Linked DNA regions of Homo sapiens: region 2 is linked to region 1. The links come from fine-mapping of genetic effects on gene expression. A gene starts in region 1. The other region holds a variant in brackets. All regions are shown on one strand. Distances are from middle to middle.

What was found.
Region 2: its variant is fine-mapped to the expression of ABHD17C in whole blood (TOPMed, PIP above 0.99).

Annotation. Positions count from the first base shown.
Region 1 is chr15:80,686,289-80,701,557 of GRCh38, forward strand. It overlaps ABHD17C (abhydrolase domain containing 17C, depalmitoylase), which reads left to right and starts at 9,022. Exons shown (of 3, transcript NM_021214.2): 1 at 9,022-9,731. The coding sequence starts at 9,142. RefSeq lists silencers at 7,740-8,034, 8,496-8,655, 8,676-8,785, 8,806-9,225, 9,316-9,365 and 1 more and an enhancer at 9,556-9,625.
Region 2 is chr15:80,709,312-80,724,580 of GRCh38, forward strand. The region is part of intron 1 of ABHD17C (abhydrolase domain containing 17C, depalmitoylase); the gene reads left to right. Among named protein-coding and RNA genes, the nearest start is that of ABHD17C, 22 kb to the left of the region's middle. The variant T/C (reference allele first, on the strand shown) is at 7,395.

The DNA.
Region 1 (15,269 bases):
CAAGCTGACATATGATATTAACTGTCACAGCAGGTACCAATATTGAGAAAGTTTACATAACCAGATCATTTGGATTGTAAAAGAGAGAGGGATATGAGAGGGAGAGAACGTTCTTGAGGGTGGGCATGGGCTGTCTTGTTCATCTTTGTATTTTCTTCAGAAATTACCATATTTCTGGCTCATAGTAGGTCTTGGTAGAGCTTTGCTGAACTCAATTGTAATAACATTGTTTTGTTCTTATATTAATAGAAAATTACTTTATCTCTGAGATATTAATTTTAAAGTATCTTAAATAGGTCCAGCACGGTGGCTCATGCCTGTAATCCTAGCACTTTGTGGGGCTGAGGCAGGCGGATCACTGAAGGTCAGGAGTTCGAGACCGGCCTGTCTAACATGGCGAAACCCTGTCTCGACTAAAAATACAAAAATTAGCTGGATGTGGTGGCATATGTCTGTAATTCCAGCTACTTGGGAGGCTGAAGCATGCGAATCACTTGAAACTGGGAGGCGGAGGTTGCAGTGAGCTGAGCTCACACCACTACACTCCAGCCTGGGTGACAGAGTGAGTCTGTCTCAAAAAAAATAAAAAATACAGTTAACAAAATGTAAGAAGAACAATTAAATTTTTAAAAGAAATATTTTTAAAAAAGAAAAAATAAAGTATCTTAGAATAGCTAGAAGAACATTTTCATTATTTGTGAGTACTTTCCTCCTTTTTTGTGTGTTTTGCATAAAAATGGCCTTTATTATTTTAGTGTTAATTACAAAAATAACACATGCTTAGAACTTACAGAATAGATGCATTCACAAGACACAACCATCAAACAAAAACAAATCTCCCATAATCTCACTAGCCAGTGATATGGTTTAGATTTGTGTCTCTGCCAAATCTCATGCTGGAAGAGTAATGTAGTCCCCATTGTTGGAAGTGGGGCCTCGTGGGAGGTGTTTGGGTCATGGGGGCGGATCCCTCATGGCTTGGTGCTGTCCTTGCCATAGCGAGTGAGTGCCTGCAAGATCTGGTTCTTTAAAAGTGTGGCACCTTTCCCCATCTTTCTTGCTCCTGCTCCTGCCACATGAGAGAGCTATTCCCCCTTCACCTTCCACCATGATTGGGAGCTTCCTGAGGCCTCCTCAGAAGCAGACGACAGCACTACGCTTCCTGTACGGCCTGCAGAACCATGAGCCAATTATACCTTTCTCCTTATAAATTACACAGTGTCAGGTATTTCTTTATAGCAATGCAAGAATGACCTAATAAAGTCAGTGATAGTGTTCTTCAGGGCTTGAACTTTTAAAGTATATTTACATATTGCTGTATATACTTTGTGCTCTGTTTTCACTCAACATATTGTGGATATTTTCGTACCATAGTAAATACGGTTCTTCAATTTCCATTTTAATGGCACATATCACTCTATTGTCTGTACTATTATTTACTTTAGTTTTTGGTGTTCTCAATTTTTTTTTGGCTATGATAAACAATGCTGTCATAAACATCCTAGTATTTAAAATCTATGTGAGAAATGAGTTATTTCCTTAGAGTAACTTCCAATCTGAATTACTGGATTACCAGAAGGTATGTTGTTAAGCCTTTAGATATATATTGCCAAATTTCCTTCCAGAAAGTTATACGAATTAACACTCTTGCCAGAAAGTTGTATATGAGAGTGCCTGCACTCCAGCACCATGTCCAACAGAGTGCTAGTGGTCTTTATTCGTTTTCAGAAAAAGATCTTTTAGTTTGGGTCAATCGAAGGGGGTAAAAAATACAGTTTTTCAAATTTGCTTTTTTAAAACTAATGACTCTAAACATTTTTTCATATGCTTATTGGCCATCTGTACTCCTTTTTATAAAATGCTTGGTCATTTATTCTGACAATTTTTCTCCAGTGGGGTGTTTGACTTTAAAAAAAAAAATGAATTTGTAGCAAATATTTTTGCCCAGTTTGTCAAAATCCTGAAGATTAAAAAATATGTAAATTTTATTATGAAAATTTTCAAACATATACACAAGTAGAGAACAGTATATCAACCCCCCATATACCCATCAACCCATGATTCAACGATTATCAACTCATGGCCAATCAATCTTGTTTCTTGTCTATCTTCCTTCCTCACCCTCTCCTCACATTATTTGATTTGATTTGATTATTCTTTTTAAGACAGGGTCTTGCTCTGTCGTCAAGGCTGGAGTGCACTGGTGTGACTTCTGCTCCCTGCAACCTCTGCTTCCCGGACTCTAGCAATCCTCCCATCTCAGCCTCCCAAGTAGCCAGGACTACAGGCAAGCACCACCATGCCTGGCTAACTTCAGTAATTTTGGTAGAGTCTAAGTTCTGTCATGTTGCCCAGGCTGGTCTGAAACTCCTGGGCTCAAGCGATCCACCTGCCACGGCTCCCTGAAGTGCTGGGATTACGGGCATGAGCCACAGCACCAGGCAGATGATTTTTTTTTTAAAGCAAATCCTTAATACCATGTCATCTCATCTGTAAATATTTTAGTATAGAGAAGACTGAAAATTTATGTTATCAATTTTTTTTTTTTTTTTTGACAAGGTCTCACTCTGTCACCCAGGCTGTAGTGCAATGGTACAAGCATGGCTCACTGCAGCCTCCTGGGCTCAAGCAATTTTTCCGCCTCAGCCTCCTGAGTAGCTCAGACCATAGGTGTGCACCACCACACCCGGCTACTTTTTAAAATTTATTTTTGTAAAGATGGAGTCTCACTATATTTGAACTTCTGGTCTCAAGTGATCCTCCCACCTTGGCCTCCCAAAGTGCTAGGATTATAGGCATGAGCCACCACACTCAGCCCATGAATTTTTATCTAAATTTCTTTTTTGGTTGTCTCTTGGTTTCATTAAAAATAAATCTTTGATTTTTTAATCCATCAGAACTGATGTTTTCCAAATATGTAGCTAATTGAATATGTTAATGTATCCTCACTGATTTGAAATATCAACTTCATCATATGCAAAATACTTATACACTGCTAGGTCCTGTTGGTTTCTCTCTCTGGTCTCATGCTGGTATTACTATTTTTTGGAACATGCATTTAACATTTGTTATTAAAAATTTCCAGGAATAACACTATAATCATCCATGTATATTGTGTTAATGTGCAACTATCCAAAATTCTTTTAAAAAACACTTAAAATTGATGCCATGATATTGTTCATCATCATCTTAAAATTAGATTTGCAAACTCAGCATATAAGAGGCTGCTCCTTCCCACTTTCCATTTAAAAAATTACTTATTAAGTTTAAATTTACTTATTACTTAAATCCAGTCTATTACATCTTTGCATATTTTTAAGTGTTTGGAAATCACCAGAAATTTAATTCCAATCAAGTGACAAAGGTGTTTTATGTTCCCATTATGTACTAGGATATGATGTTTGGTGCCGATTACACAGGGAAAAACAGGTGGACACCGATCCTATGAAGTACTGTACCAACTCGAAATTCTGTCATCAAGTTCAGGGACTCTGGACCCCCTGTTAAGAATCTATGAATAGGAGATTGGATGAGATGAGTCAGAAATGCAGGTTTGAGGGCATTATCATCCATGGAATGACCGTGGTTATAGGAACTGTGAAAACACATTTCTGTGGGTGGGTGGTGTTTTATTTCTTTCAATCTTTATCTCTGCAGTGCTTTCTCAGCGGTTTGTGGATCTCAGAGCTCTCCCCGGCTGGGTTCCAGTCATCTCATTTACAACCCTTTGGATAAGGGCCTTCAGACTGAAAAAGATTCTGGGAAAAGATATTTTGCCTCCAAAAGTGTTTAGTTGAATGGCAGGCCTCTTATCCTAATTAATGTCAGCATAGAACTTCTGGAATAGCCTCAAAGTATCATTTATTTTAAAAATTATAACCTTTTCATGTTTTCACATTTCAGATTTGTTACTTTACTGGTTATCTCCTTAAAACGTTTTCCCATCTTTAGTCAGTCATACTTAAATATTTTTCTACAGAGGGGCAAGCAGGATTTAGGCACACTGTTCCACTACCGATCAACAAAGTACTCATTGTCCTTATTCAGAAAGCAGTTAAGAACAATGTAAGATCTTTGCTTCTGATTCCTGAATCAGTTAATGCTGCATTAGGTTACAGGTAACAAATAAACCAACTACAATGACATAAAAAGACTTAGTTTTTTCACATAAGAAGCCTCGACAAATACAGGCGAGATCGGGGCAGCTATTAAACCATGAAGGAAATAGACTATCTTTCTGCACCACCATCTTCAGCTGTGAAATTTACCCTCATGCTTGCAAGATGGCTGCTGTTGCTCAAAAAACAATGCCTGCAACCCAGGCAGGAACAACAACAAAAAAAAAGTGAAGGGAAACATTACAGCTGAGCCTGGCTCTGTTAAAAGTCTCTCCAGAAGATCCCCCAGTATTCTCCAGTTAGGGCCTATTGGACAGAATCCTGTCATGTGGCCATCCTGATGGCAGGGGAGGTTGAGTGACTATCTTAACTGGGTACATTGTTACCATAACAAAATTTGAGCTCTATTGGTAATAAATATGGAGAGAATGTCACAATTCCTTAGCCAGAGGACACAGTGTGATGCTGGCCTTGGCTCTGGACCACTTTGTATCTTCTTCAAAGCCCATAACTCCAATAATACTGCCCAAACCAGAAGGAACAGGCTTGGTATTTTGGAAGCATTCACTAAATCACTCATTCATTCTTTTATTTTATTATTATTTTTGAGACAGGGTCTTGATCTATCACCAAGGCTGAAGTACAGTGGCATGATGACACCTCTTTACAGCCTCGACCTCCTGGGCTCAAGTGATCCTCCCATCTCAGCCTCTGGAGTAGCTAAGACTACAGGAGTGCACCACCACACCTGGCTAATTTCTTTTTGTATTTTTTATAGAGATGGGGTTTTGCCACGTTGCCCAGGCTGGTCTCAAACTCCTGAACTCGAGCAATCTGCTTGCCTCAGCCTCCCGAAGTGCTGGGATTACAGGTGGGAACCCCTGCACCTGGCCTCTCATTCTTTAATTTAGCAATTTAATTAACATTTACTGAGCATCTTCTCTATGCCAGTCATAGGGGAAACGATGAACAAAATACACATGATCCCTGATTTCACTGAGTATCCAGTCCCAAATTTTTAAAAAAATGTACAATGGGGCAACATTACCTTAGATTCCATCAAGACAACCAGATTCTGTTTTTAAGCATGAGTATCCTCTTATGGTCAAAAGTTGGTTCTACTTTTACAAATAAAAGTGGTCTTGAGCAACTCCACATCCAGCTGACTAGTGTGGAAGCCAAAATTCAGTGTGTAAAGGGCCAATATTAAGTAATAGAGATCAGGGTATTTAGTTATGTGGAATATTGTTTAGTTCATCAATACTGGCTGGCTTGGCAGGATACAGAGTTACCTAAGAGACAGATCATACAATGCACTTGTTGAGGGCAGGAGGAGCTGTGCATTAGCCACCTTTACATTCCCAAGTCAACTCAGTGACTGACTCATGATAAGTACCTAGCAGAGTAAATATGTTTGCTGACCTGAACTCAAAGTTAGATCTTTCTCTACTAGGATGATCAGAATGACATAGAAATTTAAGGCAGAGGTCCCCAAACCCCGGGCCGTGGACCTGTACTGGTCAGTGGCCTGTTAGGAACTGGGCCACATAGCAGGACGTGGGTAGCTGGTGGGTGAGCATTACTGCCTGAGTTCCGCCTCCTGTCAAATCAGCGGCAGCATTCGCTTCTCATAGGAGTGCAAACCCTATTGTGAACAGTGCATACGAGGGATCTAGATTGCGCACTCCTTATGAGAATCTAACTAGGATTTTCATGGAAAAAAATTGCCTTCCATGAAACCAGTCCCTGGTGCCACAATGGTTGGAGACTGCTGCTTTAAGGTCAAAGTGGACAGCTGGTAATCCCCAATTTTCACATTTTATAGGGCAAATGCATTCTTTATGTGCTGTATGTTAAAGTTTCCAAACCAACATGACAAGGCACACTAACACATTTGTTGTTAAAGATGTTAGATGTTAGAGACGTGCTGAGATCTTTAACCTCTTATCCCCTGGGCAGCACGTCTCATGTCAGTGGGCTACAGAAACTCTACCACTGGCTATATGTGGCATGAGATAAGAAAGGCTTGGTAGCTTCACTCTACGGCATATAATTTTAGGGTCTCAACTGAATATTTACACAAACCTGAACCAACATGTTTTCCTGGGGAATAAATGCTCTTTCAGCCCACCTCTGTGTAGCCTTGTAATAGAATGAAAACAAAAGCCAGGCTTTTATTTATTTGCTTATGTATTTATATTATACTGAATCACACTCCACAAATCCCTTGTGGAATGAGACCAGGTATAAATAAACAAGTATCTAGCTTTTAGATTTTTCTAACAATGCTAACACTGCTGCCAGGCCATCTGAAATATAAAGACTGTCTTTTCCATCAGCAGCACAGAAGACGAGTACTTGAGACTCTCATCATTCCCCCCTTTCATGAACTAAGGGCTATTCAATTCTTATAAAGGACAGGTGAGAGGAGTGGTATCTGAGAAAGACTGACTAGGGGGCTGTTAGATACCCTTTCATCTCAGTTCCCAAAGTTTGATTCTTGTTCTGAATTAGATTAGGGACTAATGCACTCGACTATAACCTTAGCTCCCCATAGAAATATCACCACTGAATCAGGACGCAAGACCATCTTCTTAGCTTTTATGAGGACTTGATTTTTTTTAAAGGCACATAAAAACTGTTTTGAATCTTCTGCTGATGCCCTAATTAGACTGTAAGGTATCTGAGAGCAGGGACTATCTTACTCACCTTGGTAGCTGTAGCACCTAACACAGTGGATGCTGTGAGCACAAAAAACATTACATACATAAATGCTGAATACAATAAAGTGACCAAAGTATACCAATGTGTAGCAAGTTAGAAAGCCTTTTTATTTTTTTGAGACATAGTCTCACTCTGTCACCCAGGCTGGAGTGCAGTGGCATGATCTCGGCTCACCGTAACCTCTGCCTCCTAGCTTCAAGTGATTCTCGTGCCTCAGCCTCCTGAGTAGCCGGGATTGTAGGTGCACGCCACCATGGCCGGCTAATTTTTGTATTTTCAGTAGAGACGGAGTTTCATTATGTTGGCCAGGCTGGTCTTGAACTTCTGACTTGAAGTGATCCACCCTCCTCAGCCTCCCAAAGTGGTGGGATTACAGGCGTGAGTCACTGTGCCCAGCTGTATAAAGCTTTTTTTTCTTTTTAAAGGATTTTCGCAGAAAAATTCTTTTTTTAAAAAAAAAAAAAAAAAAAAGGAAATGCAAACCTGCAAAGCTAGAATTGGGCTTTATGTGAAGAGTTTCACCAAGTGTGAAAACCTTCAAAACAGACTTCAAATATGCAATCTGGACAGGCTTTGTTACCAGGTTTTTAAAAATCAAGTTTGAATAGTTCAAAAACAAGTAAAATTGTTTTAGTGAAGAAATGGCCTTTTAAAACCCAGGTCCTAGCTGGGCAAGGTGGCATGTGCCGGTAGTCCTAGCTACTTGGGAGGCAGGCCGGAGGGTCATTTGAGCCCAGGAGTTGGGAGTCCAGCCTGGACAATACAGTAAGACCCTGTCTCTTAAAAAAGAAAAAATTAAAAGCGAGGTCCTGAAGGTTAATGAAATCAGTATCGGCAATTCATTTAGATGACGGTGCTCAAAATATTCGTCCTGTGGAAAGTCACAACGAAAGGTAAAATTCTCAGGACATCTGTGAGTTAAAACAACAGACCCAGCGTAGGGATTGTGCCAACCTCCCAGTCTCTAGCTGCCCTGCTGGCAGTCCAGGAAGGGTATCTCCTGTCAGTTCCTGAAAGGGAATTCTTCAGCTGCCAAATCAGGCGGGAAAAAGGAAGTATAGAAGGCTCTGTGGAAACTGGCACCAGAGCACAGTTTCAAGGCACCGAGAGTTATATTTGAAAAATCATGTAAAGGTGGCTGCCAAGATTACAGTAGATTTAAAGCAGTATAAGAATCGTTCATGACTAAGACCACTGAAAAATCCTGGACCCAAAACAACTCTAGAGACACAAACACTGTAAACGATACCTAGTATATACTTACTACCGGAAAATCTGCCACACGTGGGATTAGAAATGACAACCTCAACATGGTTTGTTGCTAAATACAGTACCCTCCTGTTCTAACAGCTGACTTTTATAGATACAGAAATGTACTAAGGGTAAAACCATGCCCTTAGAAAGGAAACGCTGTTGCTACCTATACAGAAACAGCCTCTCCTAATAAGAAACACACTGATGACCACCCTATCCCACAACCCCGGTACCCCTTACGGTGCTGAGAACTTTTGGTACTGAGCCAGTTCAGAAAGCAGCACACACGAGAGCCAAATATTTCGGGCACATTCCAACTCTTGTCCACCCCTTAGTTTCCTTTTCAGTAGACTCCCAAGAACCTCCATCCACGGGAGAAACCTGGATTTGGGGGAGGGAATCCCAGGGGGAGGGGAGGGGAGCGGTCCACCCCGGGACACATGCACCCCCTCCAGGGTCCCCTCTGCAGATCGGCCCAGCTGTCCGGGCGCAGAGCCCCCAGCCCCGGCACCCAGCTTCTCCGGGCCCCGGAGCCGCCTGGAAGCCCCCGTCGGCCGCAGGTCGAGAAGGTGCTTCCCAGGCCGGGGAAGGTGCCCGCGCCCTTGCCCGCAGCGCCCCGCCCCGATGCCCGGCTCTGCGCCGCGTCCCAGCGGCGGCGCCGCCGCGCGGTAACCCGGAAGTGGCGGCGGCGGCGGCGGCGGCGGCGGGCGTGCGGGAGCGGGAACGGGAGCGGGGGGCGGCGCGCACGAGCCGGCCATGGACGCCGCCGCCGGCTTTGTGTGCCGCGCGCGGGCCCGGGCCGCCCGCGCCTCGCCTGGGTTCCGGGGCCGCCGCTGACCCGCCCGGGCTCCGAGCGCCGCGCCCGCCGGGCCGGCCCCGCCTCCTGCCCTCCTCCGCCTCCGCCTCCTCCTGCCGCCGGGCGGGCGGGCTGCAGCCGCCCTCCGCGCTCGCCTGCCAGCTCCCTCGCCGCGCGTCCGTCCTCCGTCCTCCCGGGCCAGCCAGCCAGCCAGCCAGCCGGGCCGGCGGCGGGCACCAGGCCGTCCCGATGCCCGAGCCAGGCCCCAGGATGAACGGCTTCTCGCTGGGTGAGCTGTGCTGGCTCTTCTGCTGCCCGCCCTGCCCGAGCCGCATCGCCGCCAAGCTGGCCTTCCTGCCGCCCGAGCCCACCTACACGGTGCTGGCGCCGGAGCAGCGCGGCGCCGGCGCGTCCGCCCCGGCCCCGGCCCAGGCTACCGCCGCCGCCGCCGCGGCCCAGCCGGCACCGCAGCAGCCCGAGGAGGGCGCGGGCGCGGGGCCCGGTGCGTGCAGCCTGCACCTCAGCGAGCGCGCCGACTGGCAGTACTCGCAGCGCGAGCTGGACGCCGTCGAGGTCTTCTTCTCGCGCACGGCCCGGGACAACCGGCTCGGCTGCATGTTCGTGCGCTGCGCGCCCTCCAGCCGCTACACGCTGCTCTTCTCGCACGGCAACGCCGTGGACCTGGGCCAGATGTGCAGCTTCTACATTGGCCTCGGCTCCCGCATCAACTGCAACATCTTCTCCTACGACTACTCGGGATACGGCGTCAGCTCGGGCAAGCCCTCCGAGAAGAACCTCTACGCCGACATCGACGCCGCGTGGCAGGCGCTGCGCACCCGGTGAGCCTGCCGGGGTCGCCAGGCCTGACTTCCAGCTGTGGGGAGGCGGGGTGGGGGTCTCTTGGGGCCCCTGGGGCGGCCTGCCAGGAGAGGGGCCCCTCCTCCGGGGCTGAGGGCCAGCGGAGAGCCCCTTGGCCGCCGTAAATTCGCTTTTCTTGTCCCACCCTGGCTTGCTCCCACCCTCTCCAAAAACCGCGCCAGCCTTCAGGTTCCTGGAGAGCTCGGACTCAGAGAATTTTGCCTGCTTTGGCTCGCCTGTGTGTCGCCGGCCCACCGGCTGGGTCTTTTGTGGCTCCGGTCACCGCGAGTGGCAGAGTGTGGGTGCTTAAGTACCGGGCAGAAAGAAACAACTTGGTTCGAGTTTCGTTTGTACGAGCTGAAGTGACCTTGGGCAAGGCACATGGGTTTCTAGACTCAGTTTCCTTCCCTGTAAAGTCAGTGGGCGAGACAGGATGGCCTCTAAAAGACTTTCTGGTTGTAAAGTGCGGGCAGGACAATGTCTGGGCAACCTTGGAAACAGCTGGAGCGTCAGGTGGAGCGGGGAGTTTGCCTCCTGGTGGGGCAAAGTAGTGGCACTGTGGGGCAGGAAGTTAGCTGGTAGCTGTGGGCCTGGCACCTTCCACACGGCCTCCATAACAGTCCAGGATAAGTTTGAAACTTGCAGGGGCTGGGAAATCTCTGACCTTAAATTAGCATTCACAGAAGGACTGAAAAGTGTTTAGGGTGGGCCATCTGTGAGCCAGGCACAAACTGGGGGCATGGTTTAGGGGTTAGACCTGGTTGTTTTATAACAAGCAAACCAAAAACCTGACTTTTATTCACTATTAGACAAAAGTCTTATACATGTGCAGGTCAGGTTACCTGTTTGTGCTCCAGTTTGGGTATCTGTGACCTTTCCGACCTGCCTCATAGCAGTGATGGTGAAAATAACCTGAGGCCATGTCTATGATGAGATTTGATTTCTTCAGATGAAAGAGTCCCCAGAGGAAGTACACCGGGCATTATTGTCGCCATGGACCCTTCTATAGTTTTTATCTAAAACCTGTTTGCTTATGCACATCACCAACGTTAATGATTTTTTTTTTTCATTCGTACTCACGCATATGTTCCTAAGTGACTCCTTGCCTGTCTGGGAAAATGGCTTGTCCAACAGGGAAGTACTTAATATTTGCTCTATGTTGCATGTTTATGCCCTCCTGAAGTCCTGAAGGGGATGCCCTCATTGGGATTATAGCTTTTCGAAAGTGGCTTAGGCAGATGAGAATGTATCATATGCAGATGCATTGGGTCAGAGTCTGTAAGTAGTTAAAAGCCACCTGTTCCAGTAAAGGGTTTCAAAAGTATGTGTCACACACAGTCTATAGCTTGCTAGAATTTGCTGTTGGCAAAGGTATTAAAAATAAGGTTGGCATTAGATCTTTAAAATTTGAAACATGAAAATCCTACCTTGAGTAGATTTTTTAATTGAAGAGTTTCCATAGAACATTGCTTCTGTGTGTGCATGTCCACATTACAATGAAAGCCTTTCACATGGCTCACCCTTTGCCCCAAATATACAGGTGTGTCTGTGTTACAGCTTACGTGGAGTGTAGTTATTTCCTGGAAACTTTTTTTTTTTTGGTCATATTTAGTTGAATTAAGGGGCGTTGTTTTGGATAATGTTGAATTATCTGATAGTGTATCAGTTGAATTAAGGGTAATTGTTTCGGATAACTTTGAATTATCTGATGGTATGTCTAAAGATTGCCCATGATTTATTTAATGTTATACCAGAACTCATATCTAAGTTAATTTATTCACCTGTAAAAAAGGTTAGAATTTGAAGGCTGCATGCGAAGCTTAGAATTTGAAGGAACCTTATAGATCCTCATGTCTTGTGCTTTTCAAACTGTTTTGACTGTAACCTCACAGTAAGAAACACATTTTACGTTTTGATCAAGCACACATACACGTCTGTATCCACATACCTGAAGCCAATGCTTCACAAAACAGTAATTTTTCTATGGGCAGCACACATAGCAGAATATGTTGTTTTATTTCACTTTTTTTTTTTTTTTTTTTTTGAGACGGAGTCTTGCTCTGTCGCCCAGGCTGGAGTGCAGTGGCGCCATCTTGGCTCACTGTAAGCTCCACCTCCCGGGTTCACGCCATTCTCCTACCTCAGCCTCCCGAGTAGCTGGGACTACAGGCGCCCGCCACCGCGTCCGGCTAATTTTTTGTATTTTTAGTAGAGACGGGGTTTCACCGTGTTAGCCAGGATGGTCTCGACCTCCTGACCTCATAATCCGCCCACCTGGGACTCCCAAAGTGCTGGGATTACAGGCGTGAGCCACCGCGCCTGGCCTATTTCACTTTTATAAAAAAGAAAAAAAAAGATGGTTGTGAATTGCTAAATTTATTTCCCAACTCATGTATGGACACTGCACACGTTCACCCAGCTCATCTGACAGGAGGATAGACTGGCGGCAAATCAGCAGTAGGTCTCTTGACTACCAGTTTAGTACTCTTGCGAGGGCACCATTGCCACGGTAAGCATATTTATCAGATTCTTCAGGAGGTGCATTTGTGTGTCTTGGTTATTCTGCTGACATAAGAGTTACCTAATTCTGAAGCCAATCAGCCCCTCAACCACTTTCCTCTTGCTGTTCAGTATGGTTCTTCTGCTCTTACTTGCCTGGAGCAAGTTCTTATGCTATTCTCTCTTCTTTTACAGCTTAATTCATGTCAGTGCCATGGCAGGAATGCCTTCCATCCCATGTGTCCATTCTTCTGTTACTGGGTCAGACTCTGTTTTCCACCAGCCATCCCCCATGTCTTCTTTGGGAATCTTTATCTTTCCTGCCCTCCTAGTTAACCACACTCCCCAGGACACTGATTGGAGAGCTTGCCTTGTTCTGAGTCATCTTCATCTCTGTACTTAGATTATTCCCCCAGGAGGACTGTAAGGTGCAGTGCCCTGCAGGCCCCAAAGCCCCACACTCAGGACTTTGCCCCACTCTTCTGCTCACATCGTCTTTTGTATCTGCCCTTCTCCTGTGCTAGGAACAATGGATCCTGACTGGATCTTAATTGGATTAGGAGACCCTTTGTGTTCCCTGTGCACCTGGTACTCAGCCCCTTTGCTTGAGTTATCACAGTGTTGCTGTATCTGTTATTTAACTGTATCTCCACTAAATTGGAAGATCTCTGAGGGCAGGGACACTATGTCTTCTCTATTCCTGACAGTTGGCAAAATGTCTTAAAATAATAGGTAGTCATTGGTATTTGTTGAACGAATTGCACATAATGGGCGCCCCATAAATAAGTGGGGTAAAGTTAATTTTTCCTAAGTTGGACTCTTACAAGTACTTGGATCTTATTTTATCTTCGGGGTTTAATATCCATGGGTACAACCATAGACAAAAAAAAAAGGGCCAGATGTATTGGCTTGAGGCCTCATCCACTTTGTATTCATTGTATTGGTGTTCTTGTGACACTGAAATGTCTGTATTGAAGAGAAGAACAATACTAACCCATCCTTTGTATGTCTCTACATCTTTTATCCATTACCTATTTGTGCCAGCTCCTGCGCATGCTAGAGTGAGCTGTCCAGCCCTTGAAACAGATGTAAATACTACCAGTGTGCAGACCCCTCATGCATGGATAAAGACAGTGAATCCCCCCAGATGATGAGTATTAAGGTGGGCACGTAATCCAGAGTAAGGGTTTCAGGAGGAAGTAGATTTGGTAAGAAAGGTGGTTGTTGCCGTTTGGCCAATAGATGATTATTTTAAACTCTTGAAAAGTTACTGAAAAGAGTGTAGCGGAGAGGCAGGGTTTGAAGGAGCCAGGAAGAGTGGCATGAACAATGAGGAGAGCTCATTGAGCATGATGGAGAGCCCCAAGATCAAAACTTGTTTTACGTTTGCATTACTGGTAAGAAATATAAGTATGTTGTGAATACAAACAAGTGAGGGAATGAATTGAAATCACTTAGACATATCTGTGGAAAAGACACTGAAAATCAGGGTCACCTTATTGGAGTGTATTGTTGTCACTTGAGTTGGGGAAGTAAAGTGATTAATCTGTGCAGGAATGGCTGCCTATTGGTTAAGGTGGGAGTAGGCAGATTCAGCCTCCTCAACACACATCCTTCCAGGGGATCCTCTTAGGGCTGAACAGTTTTAGACTGTGTGTGCACAAGTGGCACCATGACTCAAGAGACAGTGAATCAGACTGATTTGAAACTATAAACCCAAACAAGCAAATAGCCCGAAGAATGAGGTGTAAAGGAGGCAGAGTATTTTAGCTGAAATATTTTAATCTGGAGGAACAGGAGAGTGGGACTCTCCTGTTTGGACATTTGTAACTTAGGTGTCTGCTGATGCCATCCACAGAAGTCGTCTTTGATGCTTCTTTTTGATGCTGGTGACAAAAGCTGTGGAGGAGAGAGGCGTTTGGTAATGTGGGCAGAGAAACGTTGATACAGTCAGAGAAAGCAGATGCAGAGGGAAGAAGATAAATAAGACTCTTCAGTGCCTTTAGTACAAAAGGCAAATTACAAAAGACTTAATATTTCATTTATTCCTTCATTTGACCAGTAAACCATTAAACATAGGCTGGGTGTGGCGGCTCATACCTGTAAACCCAGCAATTTGGGAGGCCTAGGCAGGAGGATCACTTGAGCCCAGGAGTTCAAGACCAGCCTGGGCAACATAGTTGGGACCCCCATCTCTACAAAAAATTTTTAAAAGTAGCCAGGTGTGGTGGTGTGTGCCTGTAGTTCCAGCTACCCAGGAGGCTGAGGTGGGAGGATCGTCTGAGCCCCAAAGTTTGAGACTGCAGTGAGCTGTGATTGCGCCACTGCTCTCTAGCCTGGGCAACAGAGTGAGATCCTGTCTCAAAAAACAAAACAAACAAAAAACCCCAAACTGTTAAACACACATTTATTTATGCTCTGCTTGTGCCAGACCGTGTACTACGTACTCTTGAAGTATCGTTAATCCCAAGCTGTTTCTTTTTGTTGTAAAAGGATGGATAGATTTCAGAGGCATTTTGAATACGTAACTATGATTTGCTGTTTTATAACTTTTGTGTCGGTGATTCACAGGATCCATAATTGGAAAATCCATGTCACAGCAAAGCTGTAGTGGCATCCTCTCAGGTCGTGGGACCCTTGAAAAACACCTTCTGTTGGTTGTGAATGGTGTTCACAGCCAGCAGTCTCAGGGTGGAATTCTCCTCCAGTAGCAAGTTACTTTCCTGGGCATGTTGAAGTTAATAACCTAACTTCTTTGTTCTCAGTGTTCTCAGAGGGAATACTATGATGCCACTAAGGGAAGAAAGCTTAGAGTTTCTGCTTGAGTTTGACTGATTAGGGAACAGAAAAACAGAAATATGTCGGCCGCGGTGGCTCACAGCTGTAATCCCAGCACTTTGGGAGGCTGAGACGGGCGGATCATTTGAGGTCAGGAGTTTGAGACTAGCCTGGCCAACATGGTGAAACCCCATCTCTACTAAAAATACACAAATTAGCTGGTCGTGGTGGCAGGCACCTAT
Region 2 (15,269 bases), 23 kb after region 1:
TACCCCATCTCTACCCAAAGTACAAAAATTAGCCAGGTGTCGTAGTGCACACCTGTAGTCCCAGCTACTTGGGAGGCTGAGGCATGAGAATCACTTGAACCCAGGAGGCAGAGATTGCAGTGAGCTGGGATTACGCCACTGCACTTCAGCCTGGGCAACAAAGCGAGACTCTGTCTCAAAAAAAAAAAAACAAAAAAACACACACATGAAAAAGCTATTGGTAGCTGTTGTTGGCCTCCAGGATATAGTTGCATACTCCTCGAAGACTCGCACATCTGGATCACCATTTTCTTTACCCCTGGATCTCCTGCTTTCATCCCGTGTAGTGTGAATATCCTGGGCTGTTGAGAGCCTGTTCAGCAGCCCCGCCTCACACTTCCCGGCCTCTCCCTCATTGTTCTCCTCCTCCACCCTGCACCACTCTGCAGCAGCCCACACCTGTGGCCACACCTTGTACCTCGTGATCACCTGGAATGCTTTGCTTCCAGGATTTTGAATTCTGAAATACTCCTTTCTGACACACCTAATATCCTGTTGGATCTGCCTGTTTAACAAACATATTAAGTGTCCACTGTGGGCCAGGCTTTCTTCCAGAACAAAACAAGCAAAACCCCTGCTCTTGTGAAGCTTTGTTTCATAAGTGCCCATGAAAAACAGTAATCATAATGAGTATGTGAATGATAGTTTATTATTCAAATATGATAAGTGCTAGAGGAAAACATAGAACAGGGCAAGGGCATTGGAGTACTAGAGAATGGATGGGTTGGCTGCAACTTTTAAAGGATGATTAGGGTATGCTTCATTCAGAGACTGACACATGGCCCCAAGCAGTGAGGGGTTAGCTATGTGCAGAAATGGGCTGAGGGACCAGGGTCCTAAGATGGGGCATGGTTGGCAGATGTAGAGATCATCAAGGAAGCCAGCGGGGGGCTAGAGCAGGGCAAGTAAGGGGTGCAGGGGTAAGAGGAGTAGTAGGAGATGAGGACTGGGAGTAACTGGGGAGGGGTGAGGGCATTAGTCACATAGGGCCTTGCAGACCATTGCAGGGACTTTGGCTTTGACAGCAGGAAATGGGAGCCATTGGAGGGCTTTGGGTAGAGGTATGACATGATTTGACTTAGGTTTTGGAAGGATCACTCTGTGTTAATGACAAATTGGAGGAGCTGATATGTCGAGGGAGGAAGGTGAGAGACCAATTAGGATGCAAATGCAGTATTTTAGATGAGAGATGCTGGTGGCTTGGGCCAGAGTGTTAGCAACAGCGGTGGTGAGATTTTGGATGTATTTGAAAGGCGGAACCAACAACAGTATTTGCTGATGCAGAGTGGTGAAGGGGAGTGTCAAGGATAACGCCAAGGATTTTGGCTTGAGAAACAGGAAAACTAGAAACTGAGACTGATTTTTTTTCTTTTTTTTCTTTCAGTTTCATTAGCTTTTTTCTTTTTGTGGAGATGGGGTCTCACTATGTTGTCCAGGCTGGAACTCCTGGGCTCAAGCAATCTTCCTGCCCCTGCCTCTGCCTCCCTAAGTGCTGGGATTACAGGCATGAGCCACCGTGCCCAGCAGAATTGCTGTTGATTGAGATGGGGAGGGCTGTGAGTGGCTCAGGATTGTGGGGCAGGGCATAGATCAGGAGTATTGTTGAGCTGTAGGCGCTCATCAGACCTTTAAGTGGAGATGTAGAGTAAGCAATAGAATTTAAGTCTAGAGTTCAGGAGTGAGGTCTGGGCTAGAAATAAATTTGGGAATTCTCCCTTCAGAGAAGGAAAGGCAATTAAGCCAAAAACAAACCTGAAAGAATTGGCAGTTTTTCCTGGGGTGGACCTACCTCTGCTTCTGTGCCAAAATCACCCTGTAGGCGCTCTGCTCATCTGGCTCCGTAGCATCTTTGATCAGTGTTGCCACCAGGCCTTTAAAAGAACCCAGTGTTGAGGATCGGATGCTCGCATGAATCACTGAGTGACAGGTCTCTGTAGGAGAGAGCATCCTGACATCAGAGTGTGACATCAGCTTGTGGGTTGTGGCTCTTTGGTCACTTTCTGTGGCTGGAGAGTGATCGCTCATTTCCCCCAAGATTTCTTTCCAGCACCCAGAAGAGCAGCAGGACAGCTCCATGCTTGCTGTAGCAGCCCCAGGCAGCCCGCAGGTGATTTCCCATAGGAGGCTCTATGCACTGCAGTTTTGCCAGAGGTCTTGTCATTACTGCATGCTGCCTGGCTTCCACTAGATTATTTCCAAAAAAAACCCTCCTACTGACTCGGTGTGGACTAGTGTTTCTTGATTTGTAAAATGTGAGAGAACCATAATTACTTTGGCAGGATTAAGTGTGGTGAAGATTACAGTTTTAATTTGCATAATGCCTCCTGCCTGTCTATTTTCCTGTATTTCCTCTCTGAACTGAAAATGGGACCAGTTTCTTGGGGACTTTTGCAGGCATTGGATCTTCTGAAACCCATTCTTGTATTATTTTTGAGTTTTCCTCTTATTTACATTTGCTAAAGAACTGCAAAGCTAACTAACTAACACACCAAACAATTGGAGTCTGTATTTCTCAGGACTTGTCCCTTCATTTGCAACTCTTTTTTGAAAAGTTCTAGGTAGAATGAAAGACTGCTGCCTGTATATTTATGAAGGAAGAAAAATGCCGTGGCCTTTCTTTGCTCTTAACCTGCTTTTCTGCAGTCGTCAGATGCTGGTGTCCATTAGCCCTCCTGCACCATTCATATCTCTTCCTTGCCAGCAAGACAGACTTCCCGTTCTCTGTCCCCATAGTTCTAAGATTATGCCTTTGTTCTAGCCCTTATCCCCTGGTCCTTTGGTTACTGATGACTGTACCTGGACTCCTCCGTTGGAATGTGATCTCCTTGAGGACAGAGGTAGTATCTAACTCTTTAGACTCACCCGGAGCCCAGTACAATAGTTCTTGTGTCGAAGGACTGGGTTGAATCACTGTAAGAGGTAGGATTTGTATTGAGAGCTCTTTCTTTTCAGGTTCAGGATGTGGGGCCTTCATCTCCTTTGATTCTTGGAATGGAGGCATCAGTCAGGTGGCTGGTTCAGCCCCAGCTTCCTGCTGAGGTTCCTCTCTAGGCATGGATGTGAATGTGTAGCCCAGCCAAGGAGGGGTAGAAGGAGCCCTCTGGGCCCAGGAAACAGCCTGCCATCGATCCTTCAACTGCCTGGACTTCTGTATAGAAGACAAAGCTTATTTTCTTAAGAGCAGCCTCACCTGTCTATGGGTGAGGTCCAAGAAGTGTAACAGAAGTGCTCAGAGGAGAAGGGGAATGTTTGTTCTTCTTGTGGTGTGTTAGGGAGGAGTGTGTCCATCTGTCAGTGTAGTACAGCCCTCCATATGTGGATTGACAGCCAGCTCATTCTAATATGTTTTTATAATACTTGGGAAAAGTGACTGTGGTTGTTATGGTTGAAGGATATGCCTATACTTCAAGTGTCACTTGATAATGAAAATGCAGAATTCAAACAATTTTTTTCTAAATCTATAGTTTTACTGACTGCCTATCAGCTTCATCTCCTCGGATCCATGAGACCTGTGCATTTGCTGTCTTTTTGTTACTTTGCCATGTTGTTTATTAAAAACAAAACAAAACTTTATAATGGAAAAATCTCAAATTATATACAATGTACAGAAAATATTAAGCTAAATTCCATGGCGGTCTCATCACCTGCAGCAACTATTAACATTCCACCATTCTTACAGCATCTACAGTTCCACTCACACTCCACCCCCAGCCTCTTATTACTACTTTGTAAGTCTTTTTTTTTTTTTAAGGAAAAATGTACATGCATTGGAATGTACAAATCATAGCTCTCTTAACTTCCTAGCAGTGTCTTCTTGCCACCCACATCAGCTCTCAGGCGCAGTGATGAGCCAGCCACAGAGCCAGGCTCTCCTTGGTGTGCCGTGGTAACAGTGTCCTGCCATTTTTGGGATGTGGATTGCACTATGAGAGTATAGTTAAGGGAGGTTGTGGATAAATTTAATACCAAATAGTTACCGAAGGAAAGCCACTGAGGTCTTGTTCTTTTTTTTTTTTTTTTTTTTTTTTTTTTCAAAATCAGCCTTAGAAAGGAAAACAGAAAGAAAGATAGGGAACTCCAGGAGTGTGTCCCATTTGTCCAGAATTAGTGGTATGCCATAAACAGAGCCCTGGTCTGGAGCTGGGAGAACATTGGCTTTCATTAATATTGAGGTACAGGCCAGGTGCAGTGGCTCACGCCTGTAATCCCAGCACTTTGGGAGGCCAAGGTGGGTGGATCACAAGGTCAGCAGTTCGAGACCAGCCTGGCCAACATAGTGAAACTCCGTCTCTACTAAAAATACAAAAAATTAGCCGAGCGTGGTGGCAGGCGCCTGTAATCCCAACTACTCGGGAGGCTGAGGCACGAGAATGGCTTGAACCTGGGAGGCGGAGGTTGCAGTGAGCAGAGATCGTGCCATTGCACTCCAGCCTGAGTGACAGAGCGAGATTCCGTCTCAAAAAAAAGCAACAAAAAACATTGAGGTACACAGCTGTATGGCCTGGGTAGTCTTATAATATCTTTGGGTCTCATTGTCTCCATATACAGACCACACACACACACACACACACACACACACACACACACACATATATTTATTTATTTATTATTTTTCTTTTCTGAGACATGGTCTTGCTCTGTCACCCAGGCTGGAGTGCAGTGGCGCAATCATGGCTCATCACACCCCTGACCTCCTGGGCTCGGGTAGTCCTCCCACCTCAGCCTCCTGAGTAGCTGGGACTACAGGTGCAGGGCACCTCACCTGGCTAATTTTTGTATTTTTTTGTAGAGAAGAGATTTTTGCCATTTTGTCCAGGCTGGTCTTGAATTTCTGGGCTCGAGCAGTCTGCTTACCTTGGCCTCCCAAAGTGCTAGGATTACAGGCGTGAGCCATCACGCCCAGCCTGTCTCCATTTATAAAGTAGGCAGTTTGCATTAGATTGTAGTTCTGGTGTATCCGGCATTCCTTGAACGTCTGTTTTATGCTAAACACATTTCACACATTACATAATTTTAATCGCCACCCATCTGTGAGGCACAAACTGTTGTTGTCTCCATTTCACAAATGCAGAAACTTAGGACCATGATAGATGAATGATTTGTCCCAGGTCACACCATGTTAAAAGGTGAGCCAGGATTTGAACGCAGGCAGCCTGACCCTGGAGCCTATGCTCTAAAATTAGAAAATATTCACTACATGCATAGTCTTCCAAGGTGGCGGGGGGTGGACATCTAGAAAATGCTCAAGACGTACGCTAGGGGTGCAGAAAGACAAAACCAGAACTTATATTTTGGCTTAATATTTATTATTTTTCATTGTTTTTTGTGTGTTTTCAATTTCTGTGGATTTTGTAGTGTTTTAAAACACACACAGACACGCACAAATCGGGAGCACCTGCTCTCATTTTTATGGAAAAGAATGCATGATTAAAAGTTGAGACACCAGTGTTCTCAATTCATAGTGTTACTTAATATATTTTTGGATTTCTTTTCTCAGAAATACAGTATCTGAGCATGACAGTAAATTAAAATGCTTAGAAATTGCAGTCTTTCAACAAATTGAGTACTTGATATATGTCAGGTGTTGGGCTAAGTGCTAGGTATAATCTTCTGCAGTATAAAAAAATACACAGCGTTAGCCAGGATGGTCTCGATCTCCTGACCTCGTGATCCGCCCACCTCGGCCTCCCAAAGTGCTGGGATTACAGGCGTGAGCCACCGCGCCCGGCCTACACAGTTTGCATTTTAAAAGATTACTTTGTATACCCCTAGAGAGGTTCCCCCCCATGGAATTCTATATTGTCTAACTGTTTTCTGATGACATAAAATTTCTCCTGAGTCTTTGGAAATCAATTGAAAGGAAGGAAAGAATTGCAATGGCCATTCAGATTCCTCTCACCATTTGGATTGGGTGGTTCTGACCACTTTACCATTTTTTATGTTGATTCTGATCAGAGGAAGATGGCTGAGGATTAGTAAACAGAAACCTGGATAACTGTAGGTGGGCCTAGGTTAAGAGCAAGGACAGTAGAGCCAGACCACCTGAGTTTGAATCCTGCCTACACTGTTTAATCTCTGTGCCTCAGTTTCCTCTTCTGTAAAGCGGGGAAATGATAATTGTGAATATAGTAGGATTGTTATTCATAGTAAATGAGTGAGTGTTTGCAAAGTGCTTACATGTAAGTTGGATAGAATACATTTTTAAAAAACTGAAAGGAATGAGGGAAAGATATGAATGAATGAATTTATAGTAGTAGACAGCTTTCAAAGATTTGAGGAAGAGCAACCCACCTATTTCTAAATGGGTTTGTGATCTTCAAAGCGCTTTCACGTACACTCTCTTGGTTCCTAAGAACGGTTCTGTGCAGCCCACATGGCTGTTAAGTAGTGAGTGCAAGGTTTCCATGTATTTCTTTCGACTTTTACATGTTTTCAGGGTTTCAGTTGCCCAGATTAACTTGTTGCCATTAGTAGTCATTTTTGTCATTCGCTTTGTAATGCTTTTGTCAGTCTAAATAAAGCAGTGTGTCCAAATGGTCTAGCAACATAGTCTTTCCCTATTTGACCTGAAAAAAAAAATTTAGAGCAATTGAATTTTAATTCTTACAGTATGCTTGTGGACATTACTGTAATTGTTTTCTTGAGCCATGATAACCTATATTAAATAATCTGGAGCAACATTTTATTCCTGATTATTTAAACAAGGACCAGTTTTTCCTACTGACTTGCATCTTTTTAGACAGGGAGTCAAAATCTTTAAAAGTCAGTCTGATGTGTTTATGGAGTCTGCAACATGCCTAACTCTAAGAGGTAACTAAAGAAGGGGGTTCTTTTATCTTCCAAGAGCATGGCTTATTATTGCAGGTGGCTTCCTGGAGATGTGCGTACTCCAGGGAGAAAGGATGTTGATTATAACTAGCTGCTCAGGAGCCTGGTCCTTGGCAGTTCTCAGTAAAGGCTCTTTGACCTAATTCCACAGACTAAGCTCCGACATGCTTCTGTCTCAAGACCACAGGGACAGCCGCGTAAGACAAGGCCTGTGACCTTGTTGGAAACGTCTCTGCTTCATGGGTTCTTGCCAGTCTGTAGGTCCCCCACAATTTCTACAAAGTAAGAAGTTCCCTTTAACCCTAAAATGAGGGGGCCCTGGCAATAGAAGAGCTACGATCATGTCTAGAGCCTCTGTAGGTTTCTTGGTAGATTGGATCTCTAGTGTAAGATGCCATTAATAAAGGAAATCATCTTAAATCCCTAGTTCTCGGTTGTCATTCCACTTTACATCCCATCAGATACTTGGAAACTGCTGGTTTGTAAGCTCCATGAAGGCAGAAGTGGCGTCTTGTTCATATTTGAAT[T/C]CCCTACAGAACCTAACGTGAAGTGGAGCCTCAATAAATCCTGGGTGAAGTAGATTAAATTATTCTCTTACTTAATCTCTTTTGCAGCCGGAATGTTCCCAGTTCCCTTGACCATTCTTTGTATAAGGTATTTCCAAATTCTTCACCATCCATGTCCTTCTCTCCGAACGCATCCCTGTTGAGCAGAATTTCTGAGACAGGCCCGTAGTGCAGGTATGGTCTGACGAGGGGCAGTGCAGTGGGTCTGTTCCCCCATGACCTCATCTCGCCAGTTAATGAGGCTTAAAGATGAACAAATAGCCTGCTATTATCTGAAAAGCATTTCTGAAAATATTGCTTTGAGCAGGATGATAGACTTGTTATAGGGAAGATTCCATTCATTGAAAGCTTACTTAAAAATATTTCCCTAGTTATATTTTTATTTTTATTAATAGTTTTTTAAATGACATTTATTTCTGGGTTTTCACACATGTGCTTTACATGTTCTTGTTTTCCTTTACAATTGAACATACACTCTATCAGCCAGAGGCCAGTGAGCATTTGATGGGGGCCAAAAAAAAAAAAAAGAGTTTTGGCATAGCTAATACTTTTCATCTTTGCCTCATCCATATTAAGTTTGAGTCTTGGGCTTATTATTAATTTGAGCACTTTCATTTTTTTCTATTTTCCACTCGTTATAAAATTACAACAAATTTTTTTTTTTTTTTTGAGACAGACTCAATTTGTTGCGCAGGCTGGAGGGCGGTGGCATAATCTTGGCTCACTGCAACCTCTGCTTCCCAGTTTCAAGCGATTCTCATGCCTCAGCCACCTGAGTAGCTGGGATTACAGATGTGCACCACCATGCCTGGCTAATTTTTGTATCTTTAGTATTTTCATCATGTTAGCCAGGCTGGTCTTGAACTCCTGACTTCAAGTGATCCACCCGCCTCGGCCTCCCAAAGTGCTGGGATTACAGGCGTGAGCCATTGTGCCCAGCTGCAAAATGCATTTTAACAGTGGTTTTAAAATCTTTATTTGGCAATCTTTATTTTTAAAAATTGGAACCATTTTTCTTCAAAAGTTGAATTAGGATTGAACCAGAGTAGGAAGCCGAACCTTCTCCCCTGGACTAGGTTCCTGGGGAGCTTAAGATGCTCTGAAACAGAATTTGAAAATGGTTGCAATAAAATATTCCCATGATTTCACAAGTACTGCTGAGTAAGGATGCTGCTGCTCGCCTAACGGAACTACTAGCTGGTAGCCCCATCATCATGGAATACAGAGGTCTGCCTGGGGAGTCTCTCTGAACCTGTTCCAGTTCAGACAGACTGCCTGATTATTGAAAAATAAATAAATAGTTAAATAAAAACAAAACAAAACAGAAGCCTACTTGAGTTGTTAGGAAGGTGGTTTAGATTAGGAGCATAGGATTGTTTGAGATTTGAACACTGCCCGTGTAAGCTTTTCTAACAGTCCCATGCTTTTGATCAATTATAAGATCCTCCCTCAAAAAATTTCCCCCCATAAACTATTGCCAAATCAGGTCTCTAGCTTGTAGTTTATTTTTTTTTTGACTGGCTTTGAAGACTTTAAAATATTTATCTATATTAAATGTCTTCTTGTAATTTTATTTTATTTTTAAATTTTATTTATTTATTTTTTTGAAATAGAGTCTTACTCTGTTGCCCAGGCTGGAGCACAGTAGCACAATCTCGGCTCACTGCAGCCTTTGCTTCCCGAGTTCAAGTGATTCTCCTGCCTCCGCCTCTGGAGTAGCTGGGATTACAAGCATGTGCCACCATGCCTGGCTAATTTTTGTATTTTTTAGTAGAGACGAGGTTTCACCATGTTGGCCAGGTTAGTCTTGAACTTCTGATCTCAAGTGATCATCCCACCTCAGCCTCCCAAAGTGCTGGGATTACAGGCATGAGCCACCCATGCCCAGCCGCTTCTTGTAATTTTAAACCCCACACTTTGCCCATCAATATCTCCTTGCCACTGACCTTAATATTCAATCTTGGTTTTTAGATCAGATTCTTAAATGTAATTACTGCAAATTAGCATCTGGTGACTTGGAGGACTGCAGCATCATTCCAATAGAGTGGCGTCATTTTGCTACAGCTGAAGAGACACGGTTGATTTATGAAGGGCAGAGTAAGGTAGAGGAGAGAGATAATAACTTTGTGTAACTTTGTCAGTCAGTCTGAATAATGCCAGCATTTCATGTCCTCATACAGTGATGATGGCGACATACAGGGTAGTAACTCCCTCTTCTATTTTTTTAAAGAAGGAATGCCTTTGGGGTATTAATGGAGAATATGCCTTGATAAGTACAGTAAGATGTGTTATTAGGTATTAGGATATACCAGCCTTCCAGTGAGAAGACTTAGTAATAAATGAGTAGCATTTTAATGATAACATTTAATGTTTCTACTTAAATAATATATGCAGACAATGTAACGAGTCAAACAGAAAAGATCACGAAGAAAAGCAAGAGCCATCCCTCTTCCTCTTGACTCCTAATAACCAGGAACAACTTTAGACAGTTATTTGTTGACTTTCTGCAAAGAAGTGAGAATTTTTCTTGGTTAACCAATTTTGCGGACTTCCTTTTACTATTTCCAGTGTTTTATAGTTATTTTTGGTTCTTCATTGAGAGTGTTTGTAATTTTTAGGTAATGTCCATGAGCTTTATTTCTTCTTCTGTCCCCTTGCATGAGCACCCGAACTCTCCTCCCTTTCCTTACCCCCAGTTCCTACTTGCTGTCAGCCTAACTTTTACTACTACAGGATTAAGGTTGCAAACATCTCCATTCTTTCTGGTAGTCACAAGTGACTTTCCATTGATTTCTATCATTTGAATTTATAAGTTTAAAAAATCAGCAAATATCATTACTATGGGGATATGTGTTATGCTAGAGTAACATTTTCATCTCTACACATGGTTTCAGGGCTTCCAGCCCATTCAAAGATCATGTTTTGTAGATCTTTCTGATTTAAGGCAAATGTGTACTCCAATCATGGCTTAAAAACTGCTATATATCTAATTTCATCTTTGAATCATGATTTCTTTATATTACATTTTACATTTCCTGAATTTTGTGATCACCTTTTCTTTTTGTTTTTTGGAAACAGAGTCTTGTTCTATCGCTCAGGATGGAGTGCAGTAGTGTGATCTCAGCTCACTGCAGCCTCCGCCTCCCAGGCTCCAACAATCCTCCCACCTCAGCCTTCTAAGTAGCTGAGACTACAAGTGCACACCACCACGCCCAACCAATTTTTTTGTATTCTTTGTTGAGGTGGGGTTTTGCCATGTTGGCCCGGCTAGTCTTGAACTCCTGGGCTCAAGAAGCCCTCCCACCTTAGCCTCCCAAAGTGCTGAGATTACAGGCGTGAGCTACCGCAACCAGCCTCCTTTTCTTTTTGTTGTTTAGAAAAGGATCGTGGGGTTTCATCATTTGCTCAGATGTTTCTGTCTTCTTTGTTACACTGTCTTTTGCATCACACTCTCCCTTGTCTTTTGGAACCTTTCACTTTCTCCCAATTTAATTTTCTGCTTCCCTGCCCAGGACTCAGGGATCACCTGAGGCCTTTCCCCTTTCTTGGTGGGCCCCCTGTTTTCCAGTTTCTACTTGTTCTTTCTTGGTTCTCTTTCTAGTTTTGCTAGAGGAAGTTTGTAATATCTTCAAAGGAATGGAAATGTAGGAGGTAAACTTTCTAGAAACCACTTGATGGATCCATGTCTGAAGGTCAGTTGACTTGAGAATGTAGAAGGCATTGTCCTGTAGGCACCTGGAATGCAGAGCCTGGTGCTGGACTGGTTCTGGTTTCTTGAAGCTGGCCTGTTTTTTCTTCTAAGGAAGCTTTTAGGATTTTTTTATATATATTCTTTGTGTTCTGAAGTTTTACAAAAATATTCCAAGGGAGGGTCTTTTAAAAATGATTATTAATGGCCGGACGCAGTGGCTCATGCCTGTAATCCCAGCTCTTTGGGAGGCCTAGGCAGGCGGATCACCTGAGGTCAGGAGTTTGTGACCAACCTGGCCAACATGGTGAAACTCCGTCTCTACTAAAAATACAAAAATTAGCCAGGCGTGGTGACGGGTGCCTGTAATCCCAGCTACTTGGGAGGCTGAGGCAGGAGAATCACTTGAACCCGGGAGGTGGAGGTTGCAGTGAGCCGAGATCACGCCACTGCACTCCAGCCTGGGCAACAGAGTGAGACTCTGTCTCAAAAAAAAAAAAAAAATATTAATTTATGTTGAACACTTAATGGGGGCCCTTACCGACTGAAGACTTGGATCCTTTGGTCTCAGAGATTTTCTTTAATATTTCTTTCAAAATTTCTTTTCCTACATTTTCATAGGTGTCTTTTATTACAACTTCTATTATACTGACCTCTGGATTTTCCTTGTCTCCCATATTCTCCATCTTTTTGTCTACTTTGTTTGATATTCTGAGAGGCCTCTTCAACTTTATTTTTGGGACTGTGAGTTAGATTTTGTGTTTACCCATCATTTTTTGTCTTTTTTTTTTTTTAACTCTTTGACTTCCCTTTTTCATAACATCCTGCTCTTGTTTTAAGGATATATTTTCATAAATCCAAGAGTATACTTATTTTTTTAAGCCCTATATGCTGGTCCCATACCTGTCTGAGTCCTCTGTGAAAGATACTTGGGTCTTTGATGCTGCTAGCTTTCCTTGTATGTTGGTAGGTTAGCTTGGTGATAAAGAGCCTGGTCACTGGCTCAGATTTGGGCTGAATCTTGGCTTTTTCATTTCCTAATTGCAAAGTACTTTAATAATAATGATATCCAACTGCTAGAGGTATTGAACATTAAATCATTTAGTACATGTACTTTTAGAATTGTGCCAGGCAAATAGCAAATGTGCCGTAAATGCTATCGTCATTGTCATCGTCATCACAGGCAAAATAGCAGATGTGCCATAAATGCTATTGTCATTGTCGTCACTTTTGTTCTTCAGTTTACACTGAGGAAGGAAAGATTGGGTAACCAGGTTGGGTTTCCTCTGTGCAGCGTAAGGTGGTATTCCTTGCCAGGCCTCTCCCGCAAGAGGAAATTTGGCTGGGGGCTTTCAGACACACGCAGCCAGTAGGGCACTGGGGGCCTCCTTCCTTGTTGTGGTAGACTTTGTTTCTGGAGGGAAGGAGGCCCCCCAGTGCCAGCATAAGGATGACTTTCCTTGAGAGCACCAACTAAAAGTCTTAGCTCACCCAGGAGGGCTTTATACTTTGTGTTGGGAAGGGAGTTGGATTTGTATAACTTTCTGTTCAGACTTCCTATAATTTACCTATTTTTAGTTGCATGCTAATTTTGAGTCGGAATCCTCTCTGGGATTCAGGTGGTTTCCATCTTCCCTGCAGCCCTGTTATAGCATGTCCTGGACAGAGTTCTCCACTCGATTTTATCCGTCAGTTTGTTTCCACACACCTTCAGTTACCGAGAAGCGCACTGGAATTCCTTCTGATTTTTCCCTGTCTTCCTATTCTCTCTGCTGTTGTAAGTTTATTTCTTTCTAATTTTTATGCTGCTTTTCCAGTGATGTTTGGATTGGTTGAAAAGTGAACAGATGGGCTCAGGTCATCATTTTGAACTAGAAGCCAAAGGAATCTTTTTTTTTTTTTTTTTTAATGTTTCCCCTTTATCTTCACTATGAGAAAGGAATCTTTTTTAAAAGAACTGCTTTGTTGCGCTGTGATTGACATACAAAAAGCTGTAGATATTTAATATATACAACTTGATGTATTTGAAGTTTACACCTATGAAACCATCAAACTGTCATCACTGTTGTTGCCATAAACTTATCCATCACTCCAGAAGTTTTCTCTTGCCCACCCTTTTTTTTTTTCCTTTTGTGGTAAGAGCACTTTACATGAGATCTTCCCTGTTGGTTAATTTTTAAGTGTACAACGCAGTATTGTTAATCATATGCTCTATACTGTACGGTAGACCTCCAGATATTTATTTCATATAACTGAAACTTGGTACCCTTTAACCAACACCTCCCCATTACTGTCTCCCCTAACGCCTGGCAACCACCATTCTACTCTGTGCTTCATGTGTTTGCCTATTTAGATTCCACATGTAAGTGAGATCACGTAGCATGTGTCTTTCTGTGTCTGGCTTATTTCATGTAGCATAAAGTTCTGCAGGACCATCCATGTTGTTGTAATTGGCAGGATTTCCATCTTTCTAAGGGCTGAGTAGTACAGTTAGCTTTCGCATCTACAGATTCAACCAACCTTGGATGGAAAATAACAGTGTTTAAGCAATGCACAACTTGTGGATACGGAGGACCAACTGTTCACATCCTTAGGTTCTGCGGGGCTGACTGTGGGACTTGAGCATCTGAGGATTGTCGTCCTGGAACCAGTCCCCCAAGGATACTGAGGGATGGCTGTATTCCATTGTTTGTGTGTGTGTATATATGTGTGTGTGTGTGTGTGTGTGTGTGTGTATCACATTTGTCTGAATGACACAAAGGAATCTTTTAAATTCCAATATTATAAACCTGTGTTTTTCATTGTGAGCTGCCAAGGCTGTTACATGTGCTGGTGATCAGGGCACCCCCTCCCATGACCCAGGGGTCACCACTGACTTCTCAGCCTGTGTGAACAGAAGTTGCTATTAATGAAGCCTGCACAGTTGCAGGTGAACTTCTCCATGGGTGAGACTGTCCTGTAATTTTAATAATGCTGACAGCCAGATTAGTTTCATTTGGTGTCCCATAAGGAAGGAACTGACTAGATCATGTTGTTAGGGCCTATGCTCATTATCTCTTGTTGAATTACCATAGTCTAAGGGGTAATTTACCATGGATAGTATTAGGGATTCCAAAACCCCATCTTATCAGTGTTCCACAGTTTATCAGACTCAGCTAGTACACACTAAATGACTCTTAATAGATAGTTTATTAACTTACAATGAGAAATATTAGGTCAAGCGGATGTTTGCGTTGTTATAAACACATTGTCTCTGTTCAGGCACAACTTAAAGTCACATTGCCACAGGTTTCCTGGGGCACACAGAATCAGTGCAGGAAGAGAGGCTGCTGCTTTGCGTGGCCGATGGCATGAGTCCTTTCTAATCCGACCAACCGCTGTGGCATCATCCTGCTGCAGCTGAGGTGAACGGGGTGCTTGCATTTGCCTGTCAGTATGGTCTGTCCTCCTGACGGCCTCTGAGCAGAATGAATTTAAAATCATTTTCAGTCCGGGTGCAGTAGCTCGCACCTGTAATTCCAGCACTTTGGGAGGCTGAGGCGGGTGGATCACTTGATGTCAGGAGTTCGAGACCAGCCTGGCCAACATGGTGAAACCCTGTCTCTACTGAAAATACAAAAATTAGCTGGGTGTGGTGGTGGACACCTGTAATCCTTGATATTTGGGAGGCTGAGGTGGGAGGGTTGCTTGAGTCCAAAAATTCAAGACCAGCCTGGGCAACAAGGCAAAACTCCACCTCTACAAAAAAAATTAAAAAAAATTAGTCAGGTGTGGTGGGGCATGCCTTTAATCCCAGAAGGTGGGAGGATTACTTGAGCCCAGGAGGTTGAGGCTGCAGTGAGCTGTGATTATGACACTGCACTCCAGCCTGGGCAACAGAGCAAGACCCTGTCTCCTCCTTCCCCGTCCCCTCCAAAAAAAACCCCTTATCATTTGTGATGAAATAGGCTTAAAATATCTTGTGTACTTCTTTTCCATCAAAGCAGAAAATCGGCAGTGTAATAATTTATTAATGACTCAGGGTCGTCACTGTGGAAGTTGGGTATTATACAGTGCAGTGATTTTTGATTGATGATTGAGTTATGTCTTGTTTAGAATGATGTATAAAATATTAAAAGGGATAAATTCTCATAAGGAAAAACATAAAT